Linked DNA regions of Homo sapiens: all the other regions are reported to be linked to region 1. Evidence: microRNA targets listed by miRTarBase, many of them from high-throughput screens and not tested one by one. Region 1 holds a microRNA gene; each other region holds the end of a gene's coding sequence.

The links. Region 1 holds the annotated microRNA hsa-miR-1229-3p (CUCUCACCACUGCCCUCCCACAG, at 1,525-1,547, shown strand). A microRNA usually pairs through its seed, bases 2 to 8, with sites in the 3' UTR of a target mRNA and lowers its output. Matches are read on the target gene's strand: a 7mer-m8 pairs with bases 2 to 8, a 7mer-A1 pairs with bases 2 to 7 and ends in A, and an 8mer does both.
Region 2: the mRNA of TIA1 is a reported target of hsa-miR-1229-3p. The part of its 3' UTR that is shown has no 7-base or 8-base seed match.
Region 3: the mRNA of DCTD is a reported target of hsa-miR-1229-3p. Seed matches in the 3' UTR shown: 7mer-A1 at 2,099-2,105.
Region 4: miRTarBase lists NXPE3 as a target of hsa-miR-1229-3p. Seed matches in the 3' UTR shown: 7mer-A1 at 2,468-2,474 and 7mer-A1 at 3,496-3,502.
Region 5: the mRNA of SNAP47 is a reported target of hsa-miR-1229-3p. The part of its 3' UTR that is shown has no 7-base or 8-base seed match.
Region 6: miRTarBase lists LRIT1 as a target of hsa-miR-1229-3p. The part of its 3' UTR that is shown has no 7-base or 8-base seed match.
Region 7: miRTarBase lists CDC42EP4 as a target of hsa-miR-1229-3p. The part of its 3' UTR that is shown has no 7-base or 8-base seed match.

The regions. Positions count from the first base shown.
Region 1 is chr5:179,795,451-179,799,824 of GRCh38, reverse strand. MIR1229 (microRNA 1229) reads left to right here and starts at 1,479; the gene lies at 1,479-1,547. It overlaps LTC4S (leukotriene C4 synthase), which reads right to left. Exons shown (of 5, transcript NM_145867.2): 2 at 4,142-4,241; 3 at 3,969-4,039; 4 at 3,803-3,884; 5 at 3,178-3,572. The coding sequence ends at 3,431. MGAT4B (alpha-1,3-mannosyl-glycoprotein 4-beta-N-acetylglucosaminyltransferase B) reads left to right here. Exons shown (of 15, transcript NM_014275.5): 9 at 189-319; 10 at 515-622; 11 at 704-897; 12 at 1,234-1,312; 13 at 1,391-1,478; 14 at 1,548-1,660; 15 at 1,757-2,215. The coding sequence ends at 1,780. RefSeq lists silencers at 3,199-3,410, 3,255-3,414, 3,435-3,484, 3,525-4,234 and an enhancer at 4,044-4,374.
Region 2 is chr2:70,209,428-70,213,801 of GRCh38, forward strand. It overlaps TIA1 (TIA1 cytotoxic granule associated RNA binding protein), which reads right to left. Exons shown (of 13, transcript NM_022173.4): 13 at 17-3,418. The coding sequence ends at 3,292. Among named protein-coding and RNA genes, the nearest start is that of C2orf42, 21 kb to the left of the region's middle.
Region 3 is chr4:182,888,179-182,892,552 of GRCh38, reverse strand. DCTD (dCMP deaminase) reads left to right here. Exons shown (of 6, transcript NM_001921.3): 6 at 1,076-2,462. The coding sequence ends at 1,154. Among named protein-coding and RNA genes, the nearest start is that of DCTD, 27 kb to the left of the region's middle.
Region 4 is chr3:101,821,744-101,826,117 of GRCh38, forward strand. It overlaps NXPE3 (neurexophilin and PC-esterase domain family member 3), which reads left to right. Exons shown (of 8, transcript NM_145037.4): 8 at 1-4,374. The coding sequence ends at 211. Among named protein-coding and RNA genes, the nearest start is that of NFKBIZ, 26 kb to the right of the region's middle.
Region 5 is chr1:227,779,664-227,784,037 of GRCh38, reverse strand. SNAP47 (synaptosome associated protein 47) reads right to left here. Exons shown (of 5, transcript NM_053052.4): 5 at 2,812-3,511. The coding sequence ends at 3,365. Among named protein-coding and RNA genes, the nearest start is that of PRSS38, 34 kb to the left of the region's middle.
Region 6 is chr10:84,228,781-84,233,154 of GRCh38, forward strand. LRIT1 (leucine rich repeat, Ig-like and transmembrane domains 1) reads right to left here. Exons shown (of 4, transcript NM_015613.3): 4 at 2,740-4,123. The coding sequence ends at 3,147. Among named protein-coding and RNA genes, the nearest start is that of LRIT2, 5.4 kb to the left of the region's middle.
Region 7 is chr17:73,282,347-73,286,720 of GRCh38, forward strand. It overlaps CDC42EP4 (CDC42 effector protein 4), which reads right to left. Exons shown (of 2, transcript NM_012121.5): 2 at 1,278-4,266. The coding sequence starts at 4,154. The coding sequence ends at 3,084. Among named protein-coding and RNA genes, the nearest start is that of CPSF4L, 23 kb to the left of the region's middle. RefSeq lists enhancers at 2,401-2,957, 3,513-4,068, 4,069-4,374.

The DNA of each region.
Region 1 (4,374 bases):
CCACCTGGCCTGTTCTCATTGCCTGTGCATCAGACATGTCTGCCCTCATCACCTGTCTGCCTCCCTGCCCCGTTATGCCCACACCTGCCTGAAGCCTGCCCCTGGGTTTGCTGTGGGACTCGGGGGCCGCTGCAGGGAGAAAGGAAGTAGGCAGAGCAGCACTGCCCACTCAGGCCCCTCCCCACCAGGTAAGATGTTCAAGTCGCTGGACCTGAGCCTGATTGTAGAGTTCATTCTCATGTTCTACCGGGACAAGCCCATCGACTGGCTCCTGGACCATATTCTGTGGGTGAAAGTCTGCAACCCCGAGAAGGATGCGGTGAGCAAGAGCTGGCGGGACTGGCAGGGGCAGGGCCAAGGGGCAGGCAGCCTCCACCCCAAACTGTGTCCCTGTCCTTGCATCTGCTCACATAGAGCACTGTCAGCTGTGGGAGGGCCCTGGTAGTCCCCAGGAGAGGCCGTGTTGAGGAAGGAGGGCTAAGCCGAGCCCTGGGGTGTTGCCCACCCTCCACAGAAGCACTGTGACCGGCAGAAAGCCAACCTGCGGATCCGCTTCAAACCGTCCCTCTTCCAGCACGTGGGCACTCACTCCTCGCTGGCTGGCAAGATCCAGAAACTGAAGGTGGGCTGCACTGCACGCTCTCCCTAGGCCGGGATCAAGGTCGGGGCCCACGCCATCACTGCTGTCCCTCCTCCGCTGCAGGACAAAGACTTTGGAAAGCAGGCGCTGCGGAAGGAGCATGTGAACCCGCCAGCAGAGGTGAGCACGAGCCTGAAGACATACCAGCACTTCACCCTGGAGAAAGCCTACCTGCGCGAGGACTTCTTCTGGGCCTTCACCCCTGCCGCGGGGGACTTCATCCGCTTCCGCTTCTTCCAACCTCTAAGACTGGAGCGGTCAGTGCCAGCACCATGGGTCTGCGATGGGGGCGGGGCTGGGTGGCCCCCAGGGTGTAGGCTTCACCGGCAAGTTATCCTCACGTTCTTCAGTTTCCGCATCTGAAGTGGGCCTCGTAATGGTAGCTACCTTGTGAGGACTAAGTCAGGCAGCCCCTAGGAGCTCAGGGATGTTTCCTGTCACCATCCTCCCAGAGGAAGGCCCTGGTCTCTTTGCACAGCCTGACAGCTGCCTGGGGGGCCCTCCTGGCGCAGGCCTGGCCTTTCTCTGCTGGGCCCTGGGTGCTGTGCTGGAACGCTGCCCCTGCAGCAGCTCACAGGCCTGCCTGGCTGCAGGTTCTTCTTCCGCAGTGGGAACATCGAGCACCCGGAGGACAAGCTCTTCAACACGTCTGTGGAGGTGCTGCCCTTCGACGTAAGTTCGGTGGGTGTGGTGTGCACTGAAGCCGGGCCTCCTGTGACCACCTGCCTCAGCCCTTGATTCTGCCCCCAGAACCCTCAGTCAGACAAGGAGGCCCTGCAGGAGGGCCGCACCGCCACCCTCCGGTACCCTCGGAGCCCCGACGGCTACCTCCAGATCGGTGGGTAGGGTTTGGGGGAGAGCGTGGGCTGGGGTTCAGGGACACCCTCTCACCACTGCCCTCCCACAGGCTCCTTCTACAAGGGAGTGGCAGAGGGAGAGGTGGACCCAGCCTTCGGCCCTCTGGAAGCACTGCGCCTCTCGATCCAGACGGACTCCCCTGTGTGGGTGATTCTGAGCGAGGTGAGGCTGGGCAGGGCCAGGCCAGGCACGGGGAGCAGCCAGGGAGACCCTGGCGGAGCTCAGAGGCCCTGCTGACCCTGGGTCCGGCTCTTCCAGATCTTCCTGAAAAAGGCCGACTAAGCTGCGGGCTTCTGAGGGTACCCTGTGGCCAGCCCTGAAGCCCACATTTCTGGGGGTGTCGTCACTGCCGTCCCCGGAGGGCCAGATACGGCCCCGCCCAAAGGGTTCTGCCTGGCGTCGGGCTTGGGCCGGCCTGGGGTCCGCCGCTGGCCCGGAGGCCCTAGGAGCTGGTGCTGCCCCCGCCCGCCGGGCCGCGGAGGAGGCAGGCGGCCCCCACACTGTGCCTGAGGCCCGGAACCGTTCGCACCCGGCCTGCCCCAGTCAGGCCGTTTTAGAAGAGCTTTTACTTGGGCGCCCGCCGTCTCTGGCGCGAACACTGGAATGCATATACTACTTTATGTGCTGTGTTTTTTATTCTTGGATACATTTGATTTTTTCACGTAAGTCCACATATACTTCTATAAGAGCGTGACTTGTAATAAAGGGTTAATGAAGTGTGTGCCTCAAATGTGAGCGCCCTGGGCATCTCCCTCTGCCCCTGCGGTTGGCTTCATTTGGTCTGTGCCCCAACATGCCAACTAAGCCTGGCACTGGGCCTCCCCAGCCAGCATCAGCAGCGACCTTTCCCTGCTAAGTCAAGGAGCCAGCCTGGCCTGCAGGCGCGGGGTCCAGCCCCTGGCTGTGCAGCTGCAGTGCCACCTCGGCGCCAGCGTACCCCCCTTCCTAGGATCAGGCCGCAAAGTCTGTCACTGGTGAAACCAGCTCAGAATCTGGGACCACAATGCCTATAGCAGGTCCCCCGAATGTCTCCCCCATGTCCAAGGCCTGCGATGAGGCCTTCCCTTAGCTCCTCAAGCTGAAGGCATTTCCCAGCCTCCTTGTTCCCCTCCGTGTGTCTCAGCTTGGTCCTCATCCTGGGTCCCCGACACTCCTCTGGCACATTAGGGTCTCCCGCTCACCTCAGGGCCTTTGCACACACTGTTGCCCCTCCTTGGAAAGCTCTCCTTTCTCCGTTTCTCCTGCATACTTGGCTAAAAGTCACTTCTTTGTTTCTGTGGGCCTCCCCTGGATCCCCAAGGCTTCTGGACATTTCCTTGAGACCGCCTGTCACTGACTCACTTCGTTCCCATGGTGCCCGCAGCTCTGCGGACCTCGGAGGGCTGCCCTGAACACCTACAGTTAACGAGGGGGATCCAGTGCTGACCAAAAGAAAAACCCCTGCCCTCACCTGGGGAGAGAGCCACAGGCTCTATCTAGTGTCAGCTGTGAAGGCCAGGGGACGAGGGACTGCGGCGGCTGAGAGTCGAGGGAAGGCCCCTGAGGAGGGGGACCGGTGAGGAGACCGCTGAGCGCTAGGAGGGTGAACCCCGGCAGGACTGGGCGGCCTTGTGACCCCGAGGCTGAGTAGGGAGTGGGGTAGGAGGTGAAGACCGGATCCAGTCCCGCCCCAGGGGGAGGGCTCGTTCCTTCGCAGCCACTCTCACGCCGCCACTAGGAAGCCCGCCCCGGGCTGCCCGGACTCGGGCTGGGCCCCTCCAGGCTCCGTAGCCCGCGGTGCGCCACCCCCGCGGACCCAGAGAACGCAGCCCGGGTCTCGGTCACTAGAACTTTAATGATAGAGACTAGGATGCGGAAGCGAGCGCCCCTCCCCGGGGCAGCTGGAGGCTCCGGCTCTTCTTTCCCGGCTCCGTCGGCCCGGGGGCCTTGGTCTCAGGCCCACGGCAGCAGCGTCCGGAGCCGTCCGAGGAGCGCGGCGCGCAGCGCGGCCGGGAGGAAGTGGGCGAGCAGGCCGAGCGCAGCCAGCGCCACCAGCAGCCAGAGGGCGCGCGCGCTCGCGTACAGCGGTGCCAGCCTGCGGGCGGCGGTCAGCGGGGAGGTGGCGCGAGGAGGCCCGCTTCTTCCCCGCCGCAACCCTGGCCCCACGGGGACTTCCTCTGGCCGCCGCCAGGGCTCGCCCACCGAATCCCCAAAGGCGCTGGGCTCCGGCCCGTCGCCCGCCCCCAGCTTCGGTCCCGCTCCCCAGGAGCCCCGCCCGCCCGCGATCTTTCCCCGGCCCCGCCCCGCTCCCCGCCCGGCCCTCACCTGAGCTGCGCGGAGCGCGCGTAGCCCTGGAAGTAGCGGAGGCGCGCGAACAGGTAGACCAGGCCGCACAGGGCCGCCGCCCCTGCGAGAGGTACGCACGGGCCTGGTGAGCGCCCTGCGCGGGTCCCGGGGGTCCAGCGCGTGCGCCCCTGCCCCACACCCCGACCTTCATGAAAGAAGATGCCGGCGACCCAGAGCGTGGCGAGGAACAGCGGGAAGTACTCGCTGCAGTTCACCCTGCGGTGGGCGGGTGGGATGAGCGCGCCGGCCGGGATGGTCCTGCGACCCGGACCCGCCTGGGGCTCGCTCCCCGCCCCGCGCCCTCCCGCCGCGCCTCACTGGGCTCGGTAGACGCGCTCGAACTCGGGTGGGCCGGTGGTGAGCGGCGGCGACACGCGGAAGGCCCTGCGCGCCGAGATCACCTGCAGGGAGAAGTAGGCTGGGGGAGGAGGGGGAGCGGGAGTCAGGTCTGGACACCCGAAGCCCCAGAGATGGGAGTGGGAGGGATCCTGCAATCTGGCCCTTCACTTGGCCGTGTCCTCTCCTCCCTAAGGCGGAACCCCGCCCCCTCC
Region 2 (4,374 bases), not on the chromosome of region 1:
AAGGTAGAAAAACCTATTCAATTGAGACACACTCACACATTTTATTAAGGCTCTTAAATTGAAACTCATCATTTTGGATGTACATTCAAATTCTAAACACAACAGTCAAAATGCAGTGACTGTAATGAAATGTAATAACCTCCTATAAAGAAACGATTGGGGACTATCATTTTTGTGATTTAACAACAGAGAAAATCCAGGAAGAATGAATTGAGTTCCTTCTAGGAGTTGTTTATCCCTGCTCATGCTTAAGATTGACGATTTCGTGAAATAAAGAACATTATTTGAGAGAAAAAAACTGATTTTTTTTAAAGAAATCATCACTCTCATTTGAAAGGTTTGCTTTCTTATTTCCTGTAAGTACATTTCGTTTTTCTAATTCAACTGTAACCTCAGGACCACTGTACAGCACTTAGTAAACCTGTCTTTGTACATGCAATCTAGTTCTTACCAACTGCCTTCTCAAATGGAATAGAACTATAACACACAAATAAAAGGAAGATGTACAAGCACAGGGACAAAACAGGAGGAAAATAAAGACTAGAATGTGAATCTCATTTTCAACAAGTATCAGCAAGGAAAATGAGACCCTGGTTTCATAATTAATTAAATCTGCAGAATGCCAATTCCATTTGGTGTTAAACAGTAACCCAATATAAACCACTGATTCTGGAATAAGATTAAAAAAAAAATACCTGAGTGAATATAACAATATGGATAGACCAAAAAGAAAAAAAATCTCACACACAATAATCACTGCAAGAAGATCCCACAGGTTATAGAAAACATAAAGGAACTTTAATATCCAAACATTCAGGGTAAAGAATACTGGATTAATCACCCATTAAGTGTAAATCACTTCAGGTTCTTTACAGTACCAGAAAGTAAAATCTAAATTTTGCATATTGCAGAGAATGAAACCATTTTAAAAACTTTAATTTCCTTACCTGATACTAATACCAGTATGATTTTTAGACGGAAAAACTAAGAGTAAGATTTAAACCAAAGATAGAGGTGTTCCTGAAATGTGAATTTGTTCAGTAGTAACCTTTTCATCATGAGTACTGATACCACTTTCTTCTCAGAAAGTAGTCAATGTACATTTTAAGATTTGTGCAATAAGCCAATATGCTGGATAATAAAAACTGTTATTACTGGAGATAGTCAAAATGAAAGAAAACTATTTAAATTATTTATGCCCAAATAATTTACCCTGCAGTCCATGAGATGCACAGGAAATAATTTTTTTTAATAAGAGAACAATGAGGGTCCTAAAGTAGAAACATAAGCCAGAAGAAATCTAAAAATAGCTTCCTGATATTTTATTTTAAAATATTTCATTTAAGCTGCTTTTGGTTGCATGCCCTGATCTGTAGAAGTTAACAAGGAAATAAAATTTCCAAGTATTTAAAAAATTTACTCATCTTCCATAAAGCGACTTTTAATGTATCAACACTTAAAAATACACAGTGACTTAATGAAATATCAGCACAACTGCATAGAATTGAGCTCCAGAGAATTATACACTCGAGCTGTCTTTCCTGGGCTCTGGTTTATAAGGGTATTGGCTTAGAGACCAGCTTGGAGTCATTTGCCCCTACCCGGGAAATGCAGGCCAGGAAACTTAAGATTTTGCGGGCCTTTTCTGTTTCTAGGTAAAATGCAGGGAGCTCCCTGAAGGTCTTGAAAACCATCAACCATTCAAATATGTATACTGGGACCTTTCCTCTTGAGTAAAGGAAGAAGGAGGTTTGTGATCTTCACTGAAAACAAAGTGAAACTTCCCACACAAGTCTTCTAAGAGACTCTGAAATATACTAGAAATTTCAAAACTAGAACAATGCCATCAAAGATTAAACCTCTTAATGCTTGGAGCCACCCCAAAATAATAAAATCGGGAACTCCAGGAAAACAGGTACCAAACGAATCAAAATAATGATTGCACTGAGGATTCTCTTATCTGAAGGCTGTTTAAAGAGGTAGGATTTTAAGGTTTTTTTTTTGTTTATCTTTTGGCCTCTGAACATTTAAAAGATGCTTTGCCCAGCTGGTCCTTCAGGCAAAATTTGGAGGTCACAATGAACTCCAAGCCTGACACAAAGATATTCTACAGTTTCACAGCTATCATTTGTACATATTAAGTTGATTCACTCTTTTTGAGCAAATCTACCTAGAAAACGGCAAATTAATATATTCCTTTACATACAACTTTGTGTCTCAAAATTCTTGAAAAACAAGAGCAGATGACTTTGTATTCAAAGACTACCAAAGTATGTATTTGATTTTCACATGCAAACAACTTAAAACCTTATAAATCTCATGTCAACTCTGCATGATGCCTTGAAGGAAATGACATACAAAGTTTGCTAACTGTGCAAAATATTAAATTGCTAAAACATTTTACATAATGAAATAATACATGTAAATGTTGAAGTTGACACATGAAATTAACATGGCATAAGAACTTATCACATTTCAGATATTTTCTTTAGTAACAAGTTTTTGTTTTTATAGTTCCTGGTACACAGCAAAGTTTATCACGAAAGATAAAAATCCTTTTAAACAAATCCAACAGGAAATTCTTGAGGCACCTTCTCATATAAAACACAAGATGAATGCAATTATCAATCCATCTGAGAAAAGTTTTCAATCTAAATGAACATCATTTTTTCCATTTAAGTATATTTTACAGAACTTTAATAAGGCAAGACAAATTTGTGAAAAAAGATGTAGATACAAAAATGATGTAAACTAATAATTTATATTAAAAAACCCCAAAGGGATAACAGTGGAGATGGGACAGCTCAAACAATGCCTTTTTTTAACCTAAAACAGAATTGTGCACAAGCTGAAGATGACAAACAACTTCTAGACTCTGCACAGTTTTGGTTTTTTTTTTTAACATCTTTATATTACATGTTTTAAATCATATCAGGAATGCAAACTAGAACTGCACACTACTTCAGTGGAAAAAAGTTCAATATTGTGCAATTTTCTGCCTCTTAATAGTTAAAAAGTGGCAGCAATCCCTGCATTTGTGTTTGAAACAAGGATCTGAGAAACTTTATCAAAAAAGGTAATGAAGGCAAAAATTGGCAGACATCCAGCATCTTGTTTCTTTTTAAAACAATGTGGATGATAAGTAATTTCATGATTAAAAATGAATCTTTTAAATAAATACATTGTATCTGACATTTGCACTGACTGATTTGATAAATCTTTAAGTAAACAACGGCTTTACTACACTCCCTGTAGCCTCAAGCCACTGGCTTTAGATTCTGGAGTCCTTATTCACTGGGTTTCATACCCTGCCACTCGATACCCAGAAGGCTGATTGGGCAACATGCTGCCATTTTGCCCTTGAGGCGGTTGCACTCCATAATTTGGTCCCATCCATGGTGCAGAAGACTGTGTCTGACTGGTGGAGAATGTGAAAGAAGCAGAGGGGAGAGGAAATCCACTGATTAAAATAAAGTATTGGCAAGAACAAACAACAAGAACAAATATGGGAAATGGGAAACATACTTTTTCTTAATCCCAAATAGAATAATTTATGCTAGGGAAAATGAAATCTTTTACTAAAGTTTTTTTCTCTTAAAAACAAGCATCCCTGTATGTTTAATTTGGACAGTTTAATTTTGTTAGAAATTAAAGCTAAGAAAATACCCTGAACTTATCAACATTCATCTCCTTTGAATATAGAAAAACCTAACCCCATTCTTGGAAAAGAAAGCTATCCATCTCATCTCTATGCCTTGGTTGAACATATTTGCTGAGGAAACCACTACCTGAAAGAGTCAGGTAGGTTCCCTACAACGAAAAAGGAACATTATACTACTCAAAGAAGAAATCAAAACAATTATTAGCATATGAAAGCTCATAAAAATTCATAACATTACAAGATTTTCTTTTCTTTTCTTTTTTTTTTTTTTTTAAGACAGGTTTTCATTGTGTCACCCAGGCTGGAGTACAGTGGTATGATCTCAGCTCACTGCAACCTACGTCTCCCCAGGCTCAAGCGATTCTCCTACCTCAGTCTCCCGAACATCTGGGATTATAGGCACGCAACCACCATGCCTGGCTAATTTTTTTTGTACCTTTTGTAGAGATGAGATTTCGCCATGTTGCCCAGGCTGATCTTAAACTCCTGGACTCAAGTGATCCGCCTGCCTTGGCCTTCCAAAGTGCTAGGATTATAGGCATGAGCCACCATGCCCAACCACAAAATCCTTTTTTTTTTTTGAGACAGAGTCTTGCTCTGCTGCCCAGGCTGGAGTGCAGTGGTGTAGTCTCAGCTCACTGCAACCTCCGCCTCCCAGGTTCAAGTGATTCTCCTGCCTCGGCCTCCCAAATAGCTGGAACTACTGGTGTGCA
Region 3 (4,374 bases), not on the chromosome of region 1:
GGTTCAAGCGGTTCTCCTGCCTCAGCCTCCCCTGCCACACCCAGCTAATTTTTTTGTACTTTCAGTAGAGACGGGGTTTCACCATGTTGGCCAGGATGACCTCATGAGCTGCCTGCCTCAGCCTCCCAAAGTGCTGGGATTACAGGTGTGAGCCACCTGGGGATTCTTTTTACAGCAACATTTTGCATTGAGATTTGAAGTCTTACAGATTTTTATGATTATCTTTGCTAAGAAATGGTTGTGAGCTATATTTTACTTGCAAGTAAGTTCAACTACCTTTGATTCATGGCAGAAAATTCCTTTGGGACTGTAAAGTTTTCCAGCGCTTCATGGTATTGGCGTTCAGCAGCAGTGGGACCATGGTCATAGGTGACGTGCCCTGGCCCCTTGTGCTGGTCATTAGGGATACAGCTCAGTGTATCTCATGAACTCAACCGTGGTGCCTTCTGAGACTTTAAATTCAAATTATTTGTATACTCTCTTGTTCAGTGATTCTTAAAAGAATTTGTTTTGTTCCCAAATGTCTTCTTTTTAATTGTTGTAGAAGAAATGAGGAACAAGTGAAAAGTTAATGAGCAAAAAAAAAAAAAAAAAAGTTGGTTTATGTTTGCATTTTTAGAATGTAATTTGAAAAATTACTCCTCACTAAAGGTAGTCGTTTTTTGCTATATATAAGCGGCAAAAGAAAATTTACTATTTTTTTGCATTAGAGAGACTCCAAGTTGGCTGCAGAAATTTTTCTAGAAAATAAGATAAATCTGATGGGAAAACTAGTAATCGGATATCATGTTGTGCAGCTGACTTGTTAGAAATCCTTTGACTCCCCAATAATTCGTGAACTCAGAGAGCTGAAAACATACAAACCACACCACCCCATGCATCTTTTTTTGTCTTAGTCTTTTCTGCTCTGTGTTTCTCTTGGTATGGTGCACTATAATTGGCTCCTATAGAGAGAAAATAGCAAGTGAATCCCAGGACATATTTTTCTCTGCACAGAAAATATGAGTTAAGCCAAAGTAAACAAATTGCTTTCACTACTCACCAGATAATAATTGTATTTTGTTTTTATTTTTAGGAAATTCATACCGAAGTGCAGCAAGATTGTCATTGACTTTGATTCAATTAACAGCAGACCGAGTCAAAAGCTTCAGTGAGTTACATCTCATTCAATCTCCAGAAGATTGGGATTATCGTCTTCTAAGAGGTTGCTAATGCCTTTCATCTTGAAGTTACACATAACTTCTTACTAGCCAGTATGGCAAAAGTAGGCATCTAAAGAATATAAAGCCTCAAATCTTCCTTACTGTCTCTCTTGTCACATGGAATCTACATGTGTTTGAACTATTGCTTTAGGGTTTAAAATAGGGGAGCCTGTGGTGGCCTGGTGCACAGGGCTAGAACGAGAGTGCCTCCCCTTCTTGTGTCCTGGCTGGCTGGGATGCTGGTGGCTCTTCAGAGGAGCATCAGCTGTCTGTCATCTGCTGCGATCCGGCAGCCTCTCTTCACTGCTACATGTGCTGGAAGGACAAATAAATAATTGTGGTTGTGTTCTTAATGGGGACGAGCAGACACACTGATCTGAACATCTGGCCCAAGTGAAGCATGGCATATAGTGCCCTTGGAAGAAAATTAGGCCTCAAATGACAGTAGCATTGAAGTGTTTGCTGCAGAGTTGAGGGAAACCCCCAGCCACCCTCCCGGAATCCGAGATAGGGTGGCACATCTGTCCTGACAGACGAGGAGTGTAACTGAACCAGGAATATTTCCTCCATTCCTGCTCTCCCACTGCACACAGGGTGGTGGCACATTATCCCTCTGGGGGGTGGGGACGCCTGTTGTTTTGGCTCAATTTGGGTTTGTTGGTCACATGGAGCTCTTCCATTTCGTTTAGCTGAATAATGAGTTGTTCCTAGAGGAGACAGCCTGTCTCTCCTTGTTGCCCCCAAAGCCCATGCCCTGCCGTGGTGGCAGCTGGGGCTGTGGATGGGAGGGGTCCCCAACATGGATGTGTTGCCCCTCCTCCGCATGCCAACGCAGTTCATGTACAAGGCCCCTCTGCAACTGGAGAGAAAATTAATTCCTATCCCGTGAGTGGATTGTGAGAAATTCCACCCACGTGGAGACAGCTTACTGCAGCACTGTTGGTGTTCGGAGCTCTTCTGTGCCCTGGCTCCATGCTTTCACCTACACAAGCATCACCTTCCTAATCACCGCGGGGCGGGGAGCGTGTGGCTGTGCCCCTTCTCTTTAATCTCATTTAATTTTTATTAAACATGCTCAGTACCTGTGTTGAGAAAAGGCTTTCTTTATCCTAAAGATTATTACCTTTTTAAAGTGCTCTTATATTTTCATGAGTTTTTATTTTGTCTCTGAGATTTTGTATTCCACATTCTAGGGTATTCTGTAATTTGGCTCCTTACCAATATTATTAAAATCTTATTAAAATCTACCCTACCAAAGCATGTACATTTTTATGTTATTATAATTATATGCTTAATTTTCTGCTCCTGTCCTTTCTGTATTGTCTCCGAAGCATATTACATATGTTTTAATGCTCAAAGAATAATTTGAGATGCCCAAGCTGTGTGCGTTCCCCAGGGTTGATGTCTGGGGCTGCTTTATGGATCAGATTTATGTAAAATGCGAAGGCAGCCGCTAGCCCTACGCTCTCTCCTGTGTACCCTGCCCCTGGTCCCAGGTGTGGCCATCTATCTGGTAGGGCCCAGGCCTCTGTCCTCCCGGAAGGCTTCAGTCCTGAGTTCTGCCCTTTGCTGACTTCTCACCTTATCCTCTTTCCAAGTCTCTCTTCTCTTCTCTCCTAAATTTCCTTCTCTTTTCTCCTCCAAACTCCTCGCCCTGTGTTTGCTCCAAAATACATAAAACAAAAGGTATGTGGAAAAAAGAATCAGTAGACTTAAAGGTAGAAAATTAGAGATTTCTCTATTGCCGCAAGTCACAAGAGTTGTGAGTCCTGTTAGGATGGAGTGTGTCATTTTCATCACATCACATTGATAAATATGTCTAGGGGCTGATAAGCCAGTAGGGCATCTAATTTATGTAATTTTGATACTATCTTATATCTTGTCTGGTTGTTACATTCAGTTTCAGTGAAAAAAAATTGACTTTTTTCTTTTTCTGTCTTTGAGGGGAGGTTGACAGGAAGGGTCCTTGCTAAAAGGGGAGTCCTGGTACTGAGGTCAGTTGTGGGTGTTTATTTGGGGGCAGATGCTGTCGCTGGGGGGTTGTGATGCTTCCACCTATGAACCGACCCTGGTCTCCTGGTGACTGGAGTGTGAGTGATTATGTCTTCGTTTCTAGGATCACTATAAGAATAGTAGAATTGTCCTATCCAGAGAATTCTGCAGATGTTCATGTTCCAGTTAATAGAGGTTTGCTTTGAACTGGTGCCTTGGGGAGAAGCTTTCCAGAAGGAGGGAGTTTTGTGCAGTCTTTTGCCTCGCAGGCATTACTAGATAATTGTGGTGAAGGGAGACTGTATCTGAGCCAATGTTGCTGCCTGTCATGGCTAATAAATGACAATAAGGAAACCATCTTTCACTGAACCGTTGGTAGAAGGACTACATTTAAAAGGCAGAATTTGTGAGTGAAATGATAGGAACTCCATTTCCCTGACACATTTTCTGCTTTCTTCCCTTTTACTCTTTTAGCAGTCTGTCCTTAAAGACTTCTGAAGCCTGACAAGACCCAGCAGTGAAAGTGATCTAATATATTAGCCATCTTTTCCTAAATTAAAAATGAAGCAAAATAAGAGAACAAGCATACAAGCTGAGCTCATGAATACAAATGTAGGCTTGCAAGCCCGGTGAGCTGAAGTTCCTGTGGCCCTGGTGTAATTTTTGATCTTCCAATGTCTGTATCTACCTGAGGATTAAAAATATTTAGGTTGTTGCAAAAGGGCCTGAGGAATGCAGGGAGGGAGTTTTCTCATTGGCGAGGCTGATAAGAAGTTTTAATATTTATAGTTCACTTTTGTTGTTGTTGTTAAAGTAAAGCCACTCTAAAAATGGTAGTTTCTACAAATCATTAGCCAGGAAGCCTGTCTAAAGCTCCAGGGAAGGACCAGAACTCAAGGTGGGGGTGCTTTGCAAGCTCTCTTGTCAGGGAACCGTGATGACTAGAGTTATGGATTACTGGCTGCAGAGGTGCCGGCAAAATAACCCTGGGCCCAGGAGTCACATTTAGAGCAGGGTGCCCCAGAATTGTTCTGGAGATACCTTTAGCTAGCTCGACTTTTATTTCGGAACTGTTGGAAGAATCTAAAGCCATTTCATCGTGAGGGTATATGAATCTCAAATAGTTACTGAGTACCTACCAGGTATTGGGTTCTCTGATGGCTCTTGGGTGAGAGTTAGA
Region 4 (4,374 bases), not on the chromosome of region 1:
ACCTGAGGTGAGCCTTTTCAACAGCGACTGGTACAACTTTCAGCTGGACACCATCCTTCGGAGGATGTTCTCAGGGGTTGGAGTATATCTCGTCGATGCCTGGGAGATGACCCTGGCCCATTATCTACCGCACAAGCTGCATCCAGATGAAGTTATTGTGAAGAACCAGCTGGACATGTTCTTGTCCTTTGTGTGCCCCTTGGAAACCTAGCCTGTCTTGGAAGGGACTGGAGGAATCATATTCAATGACCTTCTCAATTGACCTGAGTTACAGAAAGTGGCCCCAGTGAGAGATGACTGCCCTTAATAAGTATAAAATTTCAAAAAGATCTGGACTTAATATGATGACTTATAAGGAGCTTAGAAAATGCAGGTTACATTTATATCTACCTATAGGATTTTATCCAATGTTGACTTAGCCATGGTAGAACTCTTAACTGCATCTACACACTATATTGCTCTTGTAACCAAAGATGCTAATGAGTGTATTTGAATTAGCTTCTCCTAGGAGGGGTGACTACTTTGCTAAAGAGTATGAAAAATGTTTTGATGGAAGGGACAAGTTTGGTTGGTAGTAGAGTGTTTGTAGCTTATCTGGTAAAGGAAATTGAGTGCATCTGCATGCATAGCACAAGTAATCCATCTTCTGGCGGTTAACTAGAGAAAGCTTATAGTCAGAGGCTCTTGTGAATGCACTGAAGACTGCTGTGTCTCAGGAGTTTCTCTTGATGATCTACCTTTTCTGAATTACTTGAAAAGGCCAATGTGCTTGGTTCGAGTTTTTTAGTGAATATTTACAATTTCCTGCTTTTATCTAGAAAAGAAGCAAAAGGGAAATATGAAAGCAGTATATATAAAATCTGTGCTTTGGAATTGATATTTGCATTTGGTGATTGTTTTTTATTTGATTCAGCTAAATTTTATGTGTTGAATACTTACTCTAGAATAACTACTTTTGGAACTGGAAGGGGGAAATCTGTAAATGGAAATTTATTTTTATGTTCTGAAATTTGAGGGTTTAGGAATTGACTTTTGTGTAAAGAATGCTACGATATTATAAAGCTGTGGAAGTTTTTTCCACTAGTTTCAGGTGTTTTTTTTTTTGTTGTTGTTGTTGTTATTTTGAACTACTTACCAAAATTAGAAGTTAAAATCTAATTAGAAATTAATAAGATACTAAAATTCATGACAGTTTTTTGTTTGTTTGTTTGTTTGTTTTTTGGTATTTCTTGATTTGGGCATAAAAGGCACACCCATTCTCTCATGCTTGGAAGAAGCTGCTATTCCTACTGGCTATCTAAGAAGAATGGAATTATTAATTTTATTTGACTTATTAATTTTAAACGAGTTTAATTTGGGATCATTTAGTAAGTACTCTTTTCTTTTTGAGCTGTGATAGATTATAGTCTAGTTTAAGTTGCTCCTAAGTAGACAGATGAAGAAACTAGGGAGGCTTTAGAGAGGAAGACAGATGCTTGAAGTATGAACAATATATACCCTTAGAAGAATGGGTCAAATAATTTGGGTTTTTAATTTAAAATAGGAGGGCCCCAGATCTTACTTTCCTGTCCTTGAGGAACACCTTCAAGTTTTTAAAGTATTTTAGGGGGAAAGAAGATTTTTAATTGTTTCTGAGCCTAATGAGGTAATAAAATATATTAAAATAGTTTAATTTTAATGGTCCTTACGCTTTACAGTACCTAAGGATCACTTGTAGTATCTGACAAAAATGCAGAATTAAAGAGTCATGGCAGGGTGTGGTAGCTCAAGCCTGTAATCCCAGCACTTTGGGAGGCCAGGCAGGAGGATTGCTTGAGGCCAGGAGTTTGAGACCAGCCTGGGCAACATAGTAAGACCTCATCTCTACAAAAAATAAAAAATTATCCAGGTGTGGGCCGACAGTCCCAGCTACTAGGGAGGCTAAGGCAGGGTGATTGATTGAGCCCAGTAGTTTGAGGCTGCAGTGAGTTATGATTGCGCCACTACACTCCCACTTGGGCAACAGACAAGAGATCTTATCTCTAAAAAATTTTTGTTAAATAATAAAAGAATTAAGGCCAGGGATGTTGGCTCACATCTGTAATCCCAGCAGGGATTATAGTCTCGGGAGGCTGAGGTGGGCGGATTGCTTGAGCCCGGAAGGTCAAGACCAGCCTGGGTGCCATGGTGAAACCCCATCTCTACAAAAAAATACAAAAACTAGCTGGGTGTGGTGGCACCACCTGTAGTCCCCGCTACTTAGGAGGCTGAGGTGGGAGGATTGCTTGAGCCCAGGAGGCAGAAGGTTGCAGAGGTTGCAGTGAGCCTTGATTGTGCCACTGTACTCCAGTCTGGGCAACAGGGCAAGACCCTGTCTCTAAAAAAAAAAAAAAAAAAAAAAGAGGGACCATGATGCCTCTGGGATTTATGAAACCAACCTTTGTGGCGAGTGCTCAGTGATTCTGATGCAATGGTGGTATTCCACACTGTGAGAAACACTAAGAGAAGAGGTAAGATAGAATGAGGGAATAAACATGGCTTGTTTATTATTTTGGGGGATTTACCAATAACTGGTTTAATTCTGTTCATGATCCAATAGTATTGGTGATATTAGCTCCATTTTATAGATGAGGAACTCATGTTTAGATCTGAAATAAGGTATGTGAGAGTCCATATCTCTTTTCAGCTAAACTTGTGAGACTTTCGTAAAGAAGCGTTTGTATTTATTTATTTGTTTTTGAGACAGGGTCTTGCTCTTTTGCCCAGGCTGGAGTGCAGTGGCATGATATGGCTCACTGCAGCCTTGACTTCCTGGGCTCAAGGGATCCTTCTGCCTCAGCCTCCTGAGTAGCTGGGACTACAGGTATGTACCACCATGCCCAGCTAATTTTTGTATCTTTTTGTAGAGACTACATTTTGCCATGTTGTCCAGGCTGGTCTTAAACTCCTGAGCTCAAGCATCTGCCCACCTCAGCTTCCCAAAGTGCTGGGATTACAGGTGTGAGCCACTGTGCCCAGCTGAGAGTTTTTCTTGTCGTGAAAGAACTTGACATTTCCTCAAGGATTTATAAAGGAGGCTGAGGAGTAATTTTCCCAGGAGAATTTTAAAAAGAAAGCGGGCATTGCTCCTCCAGTGGTTTGGAATGATGCCACTTGATTGTGCAAATGATTTCTTATGATCTTGTCTGGTTTTCTGTTATTTTTTGATTTGGTGACATAGCTCTCAAAGATTTGGTGACACAGCTTCTTGAGTCACTTTCATCTCTCTTAAAAAAATTTTTTTTTTAACAACTTTTAAGTTCAGGGGTACATGTGCCAGTTTGTTTCATAGGTAAACTTACGTCATGGGGGTTTGTTGTATAGATGATTTCATCACCCAGGTGTTAAGCCTAGTACCCATTAGTAATTTTTCCTGATCCTCTCCCTCCTCCTACCCTCCACCCTCCAATAGACCCCAGTGTGTGTTGTTGCCCTTTATGTGTCCATGTGTTCTCATCATTTAGCTCTCACTTATCAGTGAGAACAACTTTCATCCCACATCTAATTTGTCTTTCTTCACTCTGGTGTGGAAATTTTGATAGAGATTCCAATATCACTTAAACGTTTCCCAGAATATTTAGATAGAATAATTTAGTTTCTTCTGAAAAGTTTATTTTAGGCTAGTGCCACATGGTTGTGAATATTAGCATGGTAGCCAAATAATAGTTTGTTTAAATGTATATTTCCCAATATAAATATAAGGGGCATCATAATTTTTAAAAACTATAAAATCTAGAAGAAAAATCTATGGATAAAATCCATAATTCTATCATCTGAATGCAATGAACATTAGCATTTAGGTATATTTTCTTGCAGGTTTTTTAACCATATACTTATAGAGAATATGTAATTTGGGTCTGTGTTTTTTACATATAAATATTTTTCTATGTTAAATAGTCTTCATAAGTTAATTATAAAGATCTGCTTAATAGTTCTGCTACTGCAGTTTTCATTATTAGATAAGTTGGTCATTATAGTTGGACATTTAGGTTTACAATATTAAAGCAGTGGTTTATATCAATTTCAGTGGTTTAAAATATGAATTTCTATTTTGGAATGAAAGTATTAATTTAATGTAGTGAATCTCATATTCCAGAACTGAGATGATTGATTTGATGCTATTTGTGACAGACAGAACCCATAATAAAGCCTTTCTATGCAAGTTACATTTTATAGAATTATCCTACTAAAAGTAACCTTTCTTCAGCGAATGCAAAACAGACCTTTGGTGTTCCAGTATGATTCATTTTGCCATTCTGAACAACTATCATTTTAATTAAGACCATTTAACTGACACTTCCTGGATTCAGTTATTAAGTTTCAGATTGAAACTTGATCCAGTTTAATAACTGAATC
Region 5 (4,374 bases), not on the chromosome of region 1:
ATCTCATGTGCCCCATAAATACCTATTATGTACCCACAGATATTAACAATTAAATGAGTGAAAAAAATTTATAAGCTATCATCGTACCTAAGGTAACCTACATTTTCTCCTATGATATATTCCAGGACATTTCTAGTTTGCATTTTACTTTTAGGTCTATGATCCCTTTGAATAATTTTTTTTTTTTTTTTGAGACAGAATCTCACCCTGTCACCCAGGCTGGAGTGCAGTGGCGTGATCTTGTCTCACCTCCGCCTCCCAGGTTCAAGCAATTCTCCTGCCTCAGCCTCCCGAGTAGCTGGGATCACAGGTGCTCGCCATCATGCCCAGCTAATTTTGTATTTTTAGTAGAGACAGGGTTTCACCATGTTGGCCAGGCTGGTCTCGAACTCCTGACCTCAAGTGATCCACCTGCCTTGGCTTCCCAAAGTGCTGGGATTACAGGCATGAGCCACCGCGCCCAGCTCCTTTTCATTAATTTCTGTTTAGGGTGTAGGGTCTGTTTGATTTCTTTTGCACATGCGGACATCTAGTTGTCCCAGCACCATTGTGGGACCATTTTCTGCATTGTGGTGCCTTTGAATCTTCTCAGAAGATGAGTTGACTATATTTATATGGGTCTATTTCTGGGTCCCCTAATCTGTTCTATTATTTGTCTCTCCTTTTACCAATAACACACTGGTTTGGTAACTGCAGCTTTGTAGTAAGTCTTCTAGTCAGGTAGCGTCAGTCCTCCAACTCTGCTCCTCTCCTTCAGTATTGAATTGATTATTCTGGGTCTTTTGCCTCTCCATAAAAACTTTAGGATCATCTGTTAATATCCACAAAATAACTTGCAGGGATTTTGATTGAAATTGCATTGAATCTATAGATCAAGCTGGAAGGAACAAACATGTTGAAAATACTGAGTCTTCTTATCCATAAACATGGAATTTTTCTCCATTTATTTGGTTCTTCTTTTGTTCATCAGGGTTTTGTAGTTTTTCTCATATATATAGAAAGAGTACACTTTTTTTAGACTTGTACCTAAGTATTTTATTGTTTGGGGGTGCTAAAGTAGAAGTACTTTGTTTTTAACTTCAAATCCACTCATCCATTGTTGGTATATAGGAAAGTGATTAACTTTTGTATATTTTGAAATCTTGAATAGTTGTTCATTATTCTAGGGGATTTTCTTGATCCCTTTTTACACTTTCTACCTGGAAAATGTCATTTGTGAACAAAGAGAGTTTGTTTCTTCTTTCAGTATCATTAAACTTTAACTTCCTTTTCTTGCCTTGTTCCATCTGTTAGAGCTTAAAGTGCTGAAAGGAGATGGTGAGAGCGGATGTATGGGCCTTGGTCGTGATTTTAGTGGGAAAGTTTCTACATTCTTACTACTGTATATCATGTTAGTTTTGAGGTCCAGTGGACAAGGAATGGTCAAGTGACACAAAAGGCCTCACCTGATATTGCAAGGACTTGCTGACAGTGAGAGGTCAGGGACAGGGGAGACCCCACCCACACTGTGAAGTCCTGAGAACAGCGAGGGGTCAGGGACAGAGGAGACCCCACTCACACTGTGAGGTCCTGAGGACAGGGTGCAGCCTCTTCCAGGCTTGATGGGGGTCTGCACGGTGGCTGCAGGCATGGTGAGCCCTTGCTGCCGGCTCCCAGCACTGACAGGAGGGGGGGCCATGGTGTCCGCATGCCTTGGGCTAGGCTTGAGGGCCAACACTGGCCTCCTTGGGGTGTCCAGACAGGCTGGGAGCACTCACTCACCTGTGGCCTTAGTGGAAGGACCCCAGAGGGGACAGGGCAAGGTCTCCTTCTGCAGGCTGCTAAGTATAAACCAAATAAGAAAAAGCAGAAAACAATTTCCCAGATCAAACAAAAAATAACATCAGAGTGCTGGGTGCAGTGGCTCACGCCTGTAATCTCAGCACTGTGGGAGGCTGAGGCGGGCGGATCACTTGAGGTCGAGAGGTTGAGACCAGGCTGACCAACATGGAGAAACCCCATCTCTACTAAAAATACAAAGTTAGCCAGGTGTGGTGGCGCATGCCTGTAATCCCAGCTACTCGGGAGGCTGAGGCAGGAGAATCGCTTGAACCTGGGAGGCGGAGGTTGTGGTGAGCTGAGATCATGCCATTGCACTCCAGCCTGGGCAACAAGAGTGAAACTCCCTCTCAAAAAAAAAAAAAAAAAAAAAAAATCAGAGCTCCCTGGGCTGTGGCTTTCTAGAGAGGCTGCTTCCCAGTTTTCCTGCCAGGCACCTGCACTGGCTCTGGCGACTGGCATTGCAGCCCCTAGTCCAGCTGGAGCCTCAGAGCAGGACCTCCTGTGGAACTGGGGTCTTAGCAGACATTCTCAGTGAGTGACATCAAGACCAGGCCATCCTGGATTAGGTTGGGCCCTGGACCTGTGGCAGGCGGCCGTGCAGGGTCCTCCCCAGAACCTTTGGAGGGAGCACGCCCAGGATATCTCAACGTGGGGCTTCTGGCTGCAAAGCTGCGAGGGCCCCTGTGTGTGAGGCTCACTGAGCAGCCCTGGGAAGGCAGCACCACTGGGCATTGGGTGCACCAGCGTGGAGGCCCCACAGGCTGGGCCGTGGCACCATCCTGGGACTCGCCTCCCATGTGCCCGCACCCTTCCTTGCAGCCCTGCACGGGGCATCTGAAAGCAGCATGGCAAAGGGGCACCACCCGCAATGTGACGCGCAGTCCCGCCAGAGGCCATGCTCACCTACCCCAGGGCCTCTGAGGGAGTGGCCACTGACCCAGACACAAGGCACCAGGTGGAAACACTGGCACCCATCTTCAAAAACCACTCTGAAGCCAGCATTTCCCTTTATTTCTGGATGGAAACGGGGCCCTAAAAGCAGAAATCAATATTTTTGTTTGAAAGATGCAGTCATGCTAATTTCACTTTTGGCTAAAACCGAGACGATAAAAGAACAGTTGGGTGTTTATAGGATGCCCTCAAAGTGAGCTGGCTAAGTGAGCTGGGCTCTAACTTCACTCACAAATTTATAGTACAGCTAAGAAGGCCAGTCTGTCCATGAAAGGGAGCCGAGACAAGACGAGGGCGGCCTCTTCCAGGCCTGTGCCAAGTGTCCTTGGGGTCCCGCCATGGTCCACACTTCTGCAGCATCCGCAGAACATGTGGCCGGGTCCTGCCCAGCAGCAGGGACAGCCAAGTGGGAGGCAGGCATGGTGCACACCTGGGGAGGCCCCTGGTGCAGAAGCAGCCCCACAGTAGCAGCCCCATCCAGAGGAAGACCACTCCGGAGGGCCACAGGCCTCTGCAGCCCTGGCACTGCCGCCCAGCCCTCCATCTCAGCGGGATGTGCAGGGTGAGACAGGAATGCAGGGACGTTCTGCCCCTAGGTCAGCCTCTTCATCCGCCTGTTGTGCTTGTCGATGGTCAAGGTTGCCCTGTCCACAGCTGCTGCAACGCCATCCAGGGCTTCGTCTTGTCTCTCCAGCTCACTCTCGGCCTCCAGGGCCAGCCCCTTCATCCTCCTCAGGATCTGGGGAGAAGCACAAGATCACAGCAGAGGCTGCCATCTCTGCAAACTCTAGCACAGACAACATCTCCCCCTCTCACACACCCAAGAGCCTTTGCGTTACCACCTGGGTGATGCCATCTGCGAGCCAGCAGGAGGGAGCCGGCAGCCCAGCACCAGGGTCAGGTCATGGCTCTGCCTCTGCCAGTACAGGCCTGATGAGATGAGGTGCCTGCCCCACCTCCTGCCAGCTGCCTGCCCGCACCTCCTGCCTGGTGCAGTGGCCACACCCTGGCCTGCCATCTCCAGGCTGCGGAGTGCTCTGTTTGGCTGACCTTGTGGGAGCGTTGCATGTGGGTGTGGAATTCCTGCCCACAGTGGGGCAGCTGGGGACCTGGGCACGCAGCTCGGATTTGAGTCCCAGCTCTCACCCAGCCACTATGCTGGGTGAGACCTGTCTGCATGTGGGTCCCTAACTGCAGACTGGAGTGGGAAAGCAGGATTAAAAAGAAACACAAACCCCTTCTCTTGTCTCTAAGTGTGAGATGTTTCATGCACAATGCAAATGACAGAATGAAACTCTCCATACGGTGGAGGGCAGCCAGCACCGTGGGGGTGTGGGAGATGGTCCCCGGCCCAGCAGATGCAGAAGGTGGAGGCACGCAGGGCCAGGCAGGTGTGGATAGGGAAGGCTGGATGGGGTGGGCCGCCCCAGGAATGCTAGCACAGAGATGTGTCCCCTGGTTGCAGCAGGGGCGATGAGCTAAGGGCTGAGCTGGTGCTGTGTCTGTGGCTTAATGAGCTGTGTTCTATGAGGAATCTAGGAAGGTGAACCACACTGTGAAGCGCTGCTTTACACACTCAGCCTAGGTCTAGAAGCCTCATAT
Region 6 (4,374 bases), not on the chromosome of region 1:
GCCAGAAATTCTTTTGCCAGGATACTCAGAGGGCATTCAATTTTCAGGGACTAACTCATACTCATCAGACTCACATACTAAAAGACTAAGGTAAGCCAGACATCATTTTATTTTTTACAATAAGAATGTGTTTCTTCCCATGACTTGAATATTCATGAGCGTAATCCAGGATGATTCTTCTCTACAAGGGCAAACCAGGGAAGACAGGATACACAAAGGAAGGTTGACAGATGAGTTTTGGGAGGCTTATCATCTTGGAGGCTGTATTAGTCCATTTTCACACTGCTGGTAAACACATACCCAAGACTGGGTAATTTATAAAGAAAAAGAGGTTTAGTGGACTCACAGTTCCACATGGCTGGGCAGACCTCACAATCATGGCAGAAGGCAAGGAGGAGCGAAGGCATGTCTTACATGACATCAGGCAAAAGGATTTGTGCAGGGGTACTTCCATTTATAAAACCATCAAATCTCATGCGACTTATTCATTACCACGAGAACAGTATGGGGGAAACTGCCCCCGTGATTCAATGATCTCCACCTGGCCCCACCCTTGATTCATGGGGGTTATTACAATTCAAGGTGAGATTTGGGTGGGGACACAGTCAAACCATATCAGAGGCCTTTCCATCCAGACCATGAAAATAGGTCCCAATAAACCATTGGATCATTGGCAAGATTGAATTCTCTCTCTCTCTTTCTGTCTCTGTTAACATCAGATAAATACTACAGATTTCTTGCTTTTAAGTTCCTGATTTTTCTTCAAACAAGACTCAATAAAACTGGCTAAATGTTACTTGTCTTTAGGTCAATAACTGTCCCATCATGATTGGTTCAGACCATCATTTAAAGGCAACATCCTGATCACTTCAACAGATGACTGCTTTCATCTACTGCATTTACATTTGTCCTAATTTTGGGGGTGTCTATCACTCTCATTTATCAAAGAGTCAGAATTGAGTCTTGGGTCTCCAAAACTCACCAGAAATATCTTTCTAAATTTTCATAAGGGGTAAACAAACTACAATCTCAGGGTCAAACCCAGCCTGTCACCTGTTTTTGTAAAAAGTGTCTTATTGGAAGACATCCATACCCACTAATTTACATATTGTCTATGGCTGCTTTTGCATCCCATCAGCAGAGTTAAGTAGTAGCAACAGAGCCTAAAATATTTACTATTTGCCTTTCTTTACAGGAAAAAAGTTTGCTGGCTCCCAATGTACACAGTGTCTTTGTCATCTTACAACAAAACAGCCTCTCTTACCAATGTCTATGGTCCACAAGTTATAGTCAGGTGCACCCTCCAGGTGGTGGCAGAAGATATCCAAGAATGGAAATTCCATGCTCATGTGCATGGGTGCTCTCATGGTTCTGATCCCAGGTTTCAGTGATTTTTAAAAAGTTGATTTCTATAGTGAACCTTCTGTAGACCACATTGCAGGGATGGATACTGAATAAAGACCATCAGCCTGATGAGAAAGTTGTCAAAGAACTAGATTCTGAAAGAGAATTCATCACTTCCTTGTATAAATCATTCACCTCTTTGGTCTTCTTCTGTAAAATCAAACAGCCCAGCCTCCATAGTGGGTTGTCATGAATATCAAATGTGAGAAAACTGAGTGAAATATGTTGTAAGGTCTTTTGTAAATGTGAGGGGAGTAAGAAGCACTGCATCACACTGGCTTATGTCTAATAAATCACATGACATAATACTTACAAATACTTGGAGTCTCTTGCATAATACTAGCAAAACAATTTTCTTGGATCACTTGCTGTCCCAAAATTTCTTCAGTTGTTACCCAAAGGACTTGGCACAGGTACCCTGGATGCTCCTCATGCCAGAGATCGGCTTTATAAATAAGGAACAAATTGAGCCTTCTGCTGGGAACATTCACTTTCCCCAGTGCACAGAGACAACATCTCAGTGGTTTCCTAGCTCCAAGAAAAAGCAAACAGCAATTTTCCTTTGAAGTAACTTGATGAGCAACCAGGAAGGCTCCGAGACACCCTCAAGAACCCAGGTAGGTTTTGGTAAGAATCACAAAGGCTGCTGCATGGGACAGAGGTGAATGTGCCAGACAGCACAGAGTGTAATGAGGTCTCTTGGATCCCTCCAGCCTGACATTCTGAAAGCAAATGAGCAATGTTCTCTTGGGCATTGTCTCAAACTCTAGCATTTATCGAAAAATCAAATGATTGTCTCTAGGCAGAATAGCACCCAGAGAATAAATATTAGAATTCACTGAGGGCACAGTGGGTTATGAGTGTAGTGTGTGTGTTAGTGAGGATGGGTAACTACCAATATGGCTAATGCATAGAGAGATGGTGTGTGTGAGTGCCTATGAATTAGCATAAATGTAATCAAGGTGCAGTATAGGAGGATGGTAAGGACTTTTAACCGTGGATCCCAACTGTGTGGTCCAAATCTCAGAGCCATCTAAATTTGCCTAGCTGTGTAATCCTGGGCAATGCAGATTAAATCACTGTTCAGCACATATTCCTTGCTCTACCATCACCTCCAGGGGAGAAGTGTCCTTACTTGCCCCATCAAACTTGGGTTTGGCCATGAGACTTGCTTTGGCAGATAGAATATGGACAGAAGTGGCAGTATACCAGTTCTGAACTAAGAACATAACAGGCATTGCATGAACAATCATTCCTCTATTATCATTCAACCTCACCACGAGAGAAACCTGCCCCAGGTACCCACTGCTACTCTCCAGCCCAGGCTCCAAATGAAACACACAGAGCAGAGCCACCCTAATCAACCCACAGGCCTGTGAGTGTGAAAATAAGTGTTCACTGCTATACATCACCAAGATTTTGCTTTCATTTGTTATACAGCAAAAGCTGACTGATACAGGCAAGTTTCTTAACCCCCCACCCCAGGGAAATGGAGAGAATAGTGATGCCTGCTGCAAATGATTGTTACAAGAATTTAGCACTTAGAACACTTTCTAGTCTGTAGTAAGTGCTTAACAAGTGTTAGCGGTTGTTGCAGTAGCAGCTGCTGCTGCTGTTGTTGTGTGTAAGTATCTGAGTAAGCAGGTACCCGAGCAGGTAAGAGTGGGTGATCGTGTACTCAGGTGTCAGAGCTAAAGAAGGAGCGTGGGCAGGCAGGTGTGTGAGTTGCGGAGGCATATCCCTCAGCAGAAGTACTCATTGATTCTCCTGCCCCCTTTGACTCCAAAGGCCTGAAAGTCCACACTGGAACGAGCTGAGAGAAGCCTGTCAGCCTCGCTGACACTGTGCCGGGACAGCTCCTCCAAGCCGTCCTCGCTGTAGCCCAGTCTCTCTAGGTTGACGTAGGTAACTGTGGCCTCAGTGGAGTCCTTGTTGAAGCACTTTCGGCAGCGCTTCTGAAGAGCACTGCAGCAGACAAGCAGCGTGAGAGGCAGGGCAATGACGATGGCCACACTGATCACCACCACATTGATAAGCTGCTGAGTGTTCTCAGCATCCACCACTTCATTGGTGGAGAAAATAACACACTGCTCCTTCCGGGGCACCAGGCCCTGCACACAGACACACGCCACATACTTGGTCTTGGGCAACAGCCCAGTGATGGTCACTCTGGTCTTCCCAGGCTGCACAATCACCCGCCGCATGCTGTGCTGCCCAAAGACCGCGTAGAGGACACTGAAGGCAGTTGTGTTCTTAGCCTGGGGTGCCTTCCACACCAAGGACACGCTGTGGTAAGTGTCCCCCACCACCTTCACAGACCTCACCATTCGTGCCTCTGAGGGTCCTGCCCGCCCATCAGAGAGCTCTCCCAGGGCATCCATCTGGAAGTGCTCAAGGGTCAGCTCCTCCTTTGTGCTGGGCACAGAGGGTCCAGTGGCCAGGACAGCGGGTTTGGGAATCTGGGGGACATGCCTGGCCACCAGCTTGTTGTTGTAAGCAGCAGCTTCCCCTCCGCCACCTGTCCTTGCCCATAGTGCTCCTGGGCTCCCACTGTGTTCTGTGGAAGTCGGTGGCTCAGTGACAATCAAGGAGATAACAGTTTCAGAGGCTCCCAGGAAGTTCTTGGCTTGGCAGATGTAGTCTCCGGAGTCAAGGTGGGACACTGCAGGCAGGCCCAGCAGAGTCCAGCTCGTGCCGTCACTGGAGACTTCCTGGTGCACTAGGAGGAAAACAGGCATGTGTGGGAGAACGAATGGGCCCATCTGCCCCAAGCTGCCTTTCAGGGCCAAGTTCACAGCCCCAGGTGGTACACACTCAGGTGTCATCGTAAGAAAACACTGGCAGTCACTCAGTGTTTCTTAGACCAGCCAAGGGTATCAACATTACCTTGGACTCAAATGTGGTGAGCCTCTGGAGCCCCAGGCTGAGGCAGAGCCTAAGAATGATGCCTTCTAAATCTGACAAGTTCAC
Region 7 (4,374 bases), not on the chromosome of region 1:
GGAGAGTGCAGGGTTTCCACCAGGAACTCAGCCACATTGAGATCCCCAAGATTTCCCCAGATTTCCTGAGAGCAAGCGGGGGCTTCAACAAGCAGTGAGCCAGCCCTACGCAGACCAGGGCTCCCTTCTGAAGCTGTCCAGAAAGAGGGGAACATGATTCAAGGGAAGGAGGTGGTAGGGCAGGGGCAGGGCAGTGGGTTCAGGGGCCACTAGACCCTCACCCCCTGACTTTATATCCCGAGGTTTTGATGTGCCCAGGAGTGGTGGGGTGAGAAGGGCAGGAGTTTTGAATGAATTCTGGGCATTAGAGAAGGCGGCCTCGAGGCTTATCTGATCATCTTTCTCCATCTGGAAAATGGGGATGTGGAGCTTCTATCTCCCTGAGAAGTGAGGTTGAACTGAGGACCTGCCACTTGTAAGCTGATTTTCCAGGCTTAACGGTAAAAGGGGAAAGAGGAGGTGGTAGCCCCGCTCCCAGCATCATGCAGAAACTGCCTTCAGGGCCAGCCACTTTCTGGTGGTGACAGTTCCGTGCACCAGGACACCAGGGGGCTGGGGAGAACACAGTCACTCTCATCCTAATCACAACTGTATAAAAAGCCCATGTCGACCGGCACGGTGGCTCACACCTGTAATCCCAGCATTTTGGGAAGCCAAGGTGGGCGGATCACTTGAGGTCAGGAGTTGGAGACCAACCTGGCCAACATGGTGAAACCCAGTATCTACTAAAAATACAAAAATTAGCTGGGTGTAGTGGCGCACGCCTGTAATCCTAGCTAGTTGGGAGGCTGAGGCAGGAGAATCGCTTGCACCTAGGAAGCGGAGGTTGCAGTGAGCTGAGATCACACCCCTGCACTCCAACCTGGGCGACAGAGTGAGACTCCATCTCAAAAAAAACAAAACAACAACAACAAAAAAAAAAAACAAAAAAAAACAAAAAACCAACCCCCTCCCCCACAAAAAGCCCATGTCACTGTTTCTGTGCCTCAACCCTCTAAGAGTGGCAGGATACCCATTTTACAGAGCAGGAGAGGGAGGCACAGAACAGCTAAGCGACCAAGTGCCAAGGGCTTCCAAGAGATGGCAGTTAGGGACACCTGAGTCCCCAGACTCTGAAGGGGCCTGCCCAGGCAGACAGCATCGCAGGAAGGGCGGGTCCTCACGGACAGAGAGACAGAAGCCACCTCAGGCCCCCCTGGACAGCTCTAGGACCTGGGTCCAGACCCCACCCCCATCCTGAAATAGCCCTCCCAAAAAGCAGAGACAGACACCAGGCGTGCTTTAGGGCTTTTTTTTTAATGTTTCCTCACTGTTTTGACAATATCATGAAAAAAATCAGTTTAGAATCTGGAATTGGCCTGGACGGGATTCGAGGGCAGCTGGCGGGGGCTGCATAGCCCCTGAGGTTCCTCCCCCACCATGGGACCTAAGCTATTGGAAACAGGAGCACCAACAGGGCACCGAACCTGGAACTAAGTTAGTGTCTAGAGTCAGGCAAGAGAGGAGAGTCAGGCAAGAGAGGAGGGGCCGGGCCACAGTCGCCATGGGGACGCCCCTGGCTGTGGTTGGTTCTGTGTCTCCCCCTCCCCTCACTGGCTACATGGAGACAGGGAGGTGGGTCAGGCTGTTCCCAGGACAGAAAAATAACCGGCAGTCAACCTCAGGGCTCATACCCGAGCTTCTGCTCAATCCCCTCGGGGACAGTTACAGGACTCAGAGAGAAACGTGAATTTCAGAAAAACAAATCATTTTTCACATAAGTGTTCCAAATATTGCGTGGGGCATATTAATGCTAGAAAATTATCTTTTGTTTACCTGAAATTTGCGTTTAACTCAGCACTCTGTTTTGGTTTTGCTAAATCTGGCCAACCCTGGCCTCAAAAGTCGGTGGGGGGAGGCCTGAGAAAAGAAAGGGAAGTAGTCAGTACTGAGGGTATTGAGGGGAGGGAGGGAATAACTCAGCCAAAAAGAAAAAAAAGGCTTTCCCCCCATAGGAATGATATATTATTTAAAAAAAAAATCGTTCTCCAAAAATATTCTGCACTGGCCTTCCTCAGTTGTTAATAGCTATGGGAGGTGCGTAGGGAAAACACACACACCAGACACCCACCCCATGTCATTCTAAATAAAGTTGGGAAGCACTAAAGTTGAGCTGGTGTCTTTGCCACGGATGTCCCCAGACTCCAGTCCGCTAATCGCCACCAGACTCCAGTCCGCTAATCGCCACTGTGAATTTTGAAGAGGAGGCTTAGTATAAAGGTTTTCTAAAAGGATTGATTCTCATTCTGAGGCAGACCTATTAACACCATCCTGATATTGCTCTATAAGGATTTAAACACAATAATAAAGAACAAACAAGCCCCTAGGGACTGAGCGAGTGCCCTAGCCCTGTTCCTAGTGTCATCCTGGAAGGGTCCCTTCTTGCAATTCACGAAGCCTGGGGGGCTTTCCTTCCATTCTCCATCCTGTTCTCTTCCCCTGGAAAGGGCTGCGTTTAGTGCACATGCTCGCAGCTGGCCCCCCGTCCAGCTCAGCTCCAAGGGGCTCCAGATTTCCAGGGCAGGAGCTGGGGTGGGGCAGGGAGGGGCTGAGAGGCAAGACCGTCTCCCTCCTGCTGCAGCTGCTTCCCCAGCAGCCACTGCTGGGCACAGCAGAAACGCCAGCAGAGAAAATGGGAGCCGAGAGTCCTTAGCCCTGGAGCTGAGGCTGCCTCTGGGCTGACCCGCTGGCTGTACGTGGCCAGAACTGGGGTTGGCATCTGGCATCCATTTGAGGCCAGGGTGGAGGAAAGGGAGGCCAACAGAGGAAAACCTATTCCTGCTGTGACAACACAGCCCTTGTCCCACGCAGCCTAAGTGCAGGGAGCATGATGAAGTCAGGCAGCCAGTCGGCACCCATGCCAGCCCCCTACGTCCTCCGAAGACCCGAGGGCCAGGCCAGTGTCCCTCATCTACAAGGTCCAGGGTCCATGGTCTGAATCAAGGGTCCTGGCTGCCCCTGCGCCGTAGGGTCAAAGGTCATAGTGGGGTGGGGGCAGGGAGAAGATGCAGCCAAGAGCTCCCGGTGGCCACCCACTGTCCGCCTCACACACGGATTTCATCCTCCTCCTCCTCATCCATGAAGGAGAACTCCTTGTCTGGCTGTCTTGAGACAGCAGCCCGGGCCCTGTCCGGCCCCCGGAAGGCAGGGCTGCGCTCCTCCAGGATGCCTGAGGTGCAGCTGGAGAGGGAGCTGCTGTCCCGTGTGGTGTGGCTGCCCATGCTGCGGGCTGAGCCGGGGCTGGGGGCCGCTGCTGCCCACCCCTCATCCTCCAGAGCATGGGAGGGGAGGGAGGGCAAGTCTGGGCCAGCCTTGCCTTCCTGCCTTGCCAGGGGAGGGGCCGCCACGGCGTACGGGGGAGCCTGGGTGATGGTGCCAGCGGCGCCCTCATCGCCATGGTAACCACCCTCCCCCTCCTCGGGGTCCCACTCCTCCTTGTCCATGATGCTGAGGACGTCACCCAGCATGGAGGGCCCCAGGTCGATGTGGAAGGACATGATGGACTCCGCATGCTTCAGCCCGTACGTGGCCTTGGGCACGACAGGCAGATCTGTCAGATCCCCAAAGGCCTGCTCATCGAGGAGGGGGTCAGGGGAATGTGGACCCGCGGCCCCATTCCGACGGGGCACTGCCTCCTCCGTGCCCGCCTCCTCATCGCCGCCCTCCCCGTCATTGGCCTTCTTCACGGGGCTGGATGACAGGCTCTTGGGCAGCTTACTGGTGCCCTTCTCCGCGGCCTCCTTCTCATTGAGCTGGGGCAGGGACATGGCATTCTTGACAAACAGGGCCGAGTCCCGCAGGGAGCCCAGCATGTCACGCTGCTCCCGCTCCCCCCTGGTCACCGACTGTGACCGCTTGCTGCCCCGGAACTTCCTGGACAGGAGACTGCGTTTGGAAGATGAAGAAGAGGGCTGTTCGTCCAAGGACTCGCCGTCGGGCTCGCCAGCCTTGCTATTGAGGAAGGAGGTGTCCCCAAAGGCGTCTCCGGCCCGGCCAACGTGCATGGTGTGGCGGAAGTCGCCCAGCGGGGCGCTGATCATCTCGGCCGTGAGGTCCGCTCGGGAACGGCGCTTGGAGTGCACCGAGCTGGACACCAGTTGCTTGAGGATTGGCATCTTGCTGGATGGGCGGGGAGGTGGGCCCTCCCGAGGTAGCCGGCAGGTCTGGGGTCAGATCTGAAGTCCAAGTCCAGTGGGCAGAGGGGGACGCAATGAGGAGATCATAAGGCTGCAAGCAGAGAATGAGAGGCAAAGGATTAACGCGGGCTGGCCACACGGCACAAAAGCCTCTTTGCCAGGGGACTGTCATTTAAACCCCAGCGCTCCTACCAAAGTT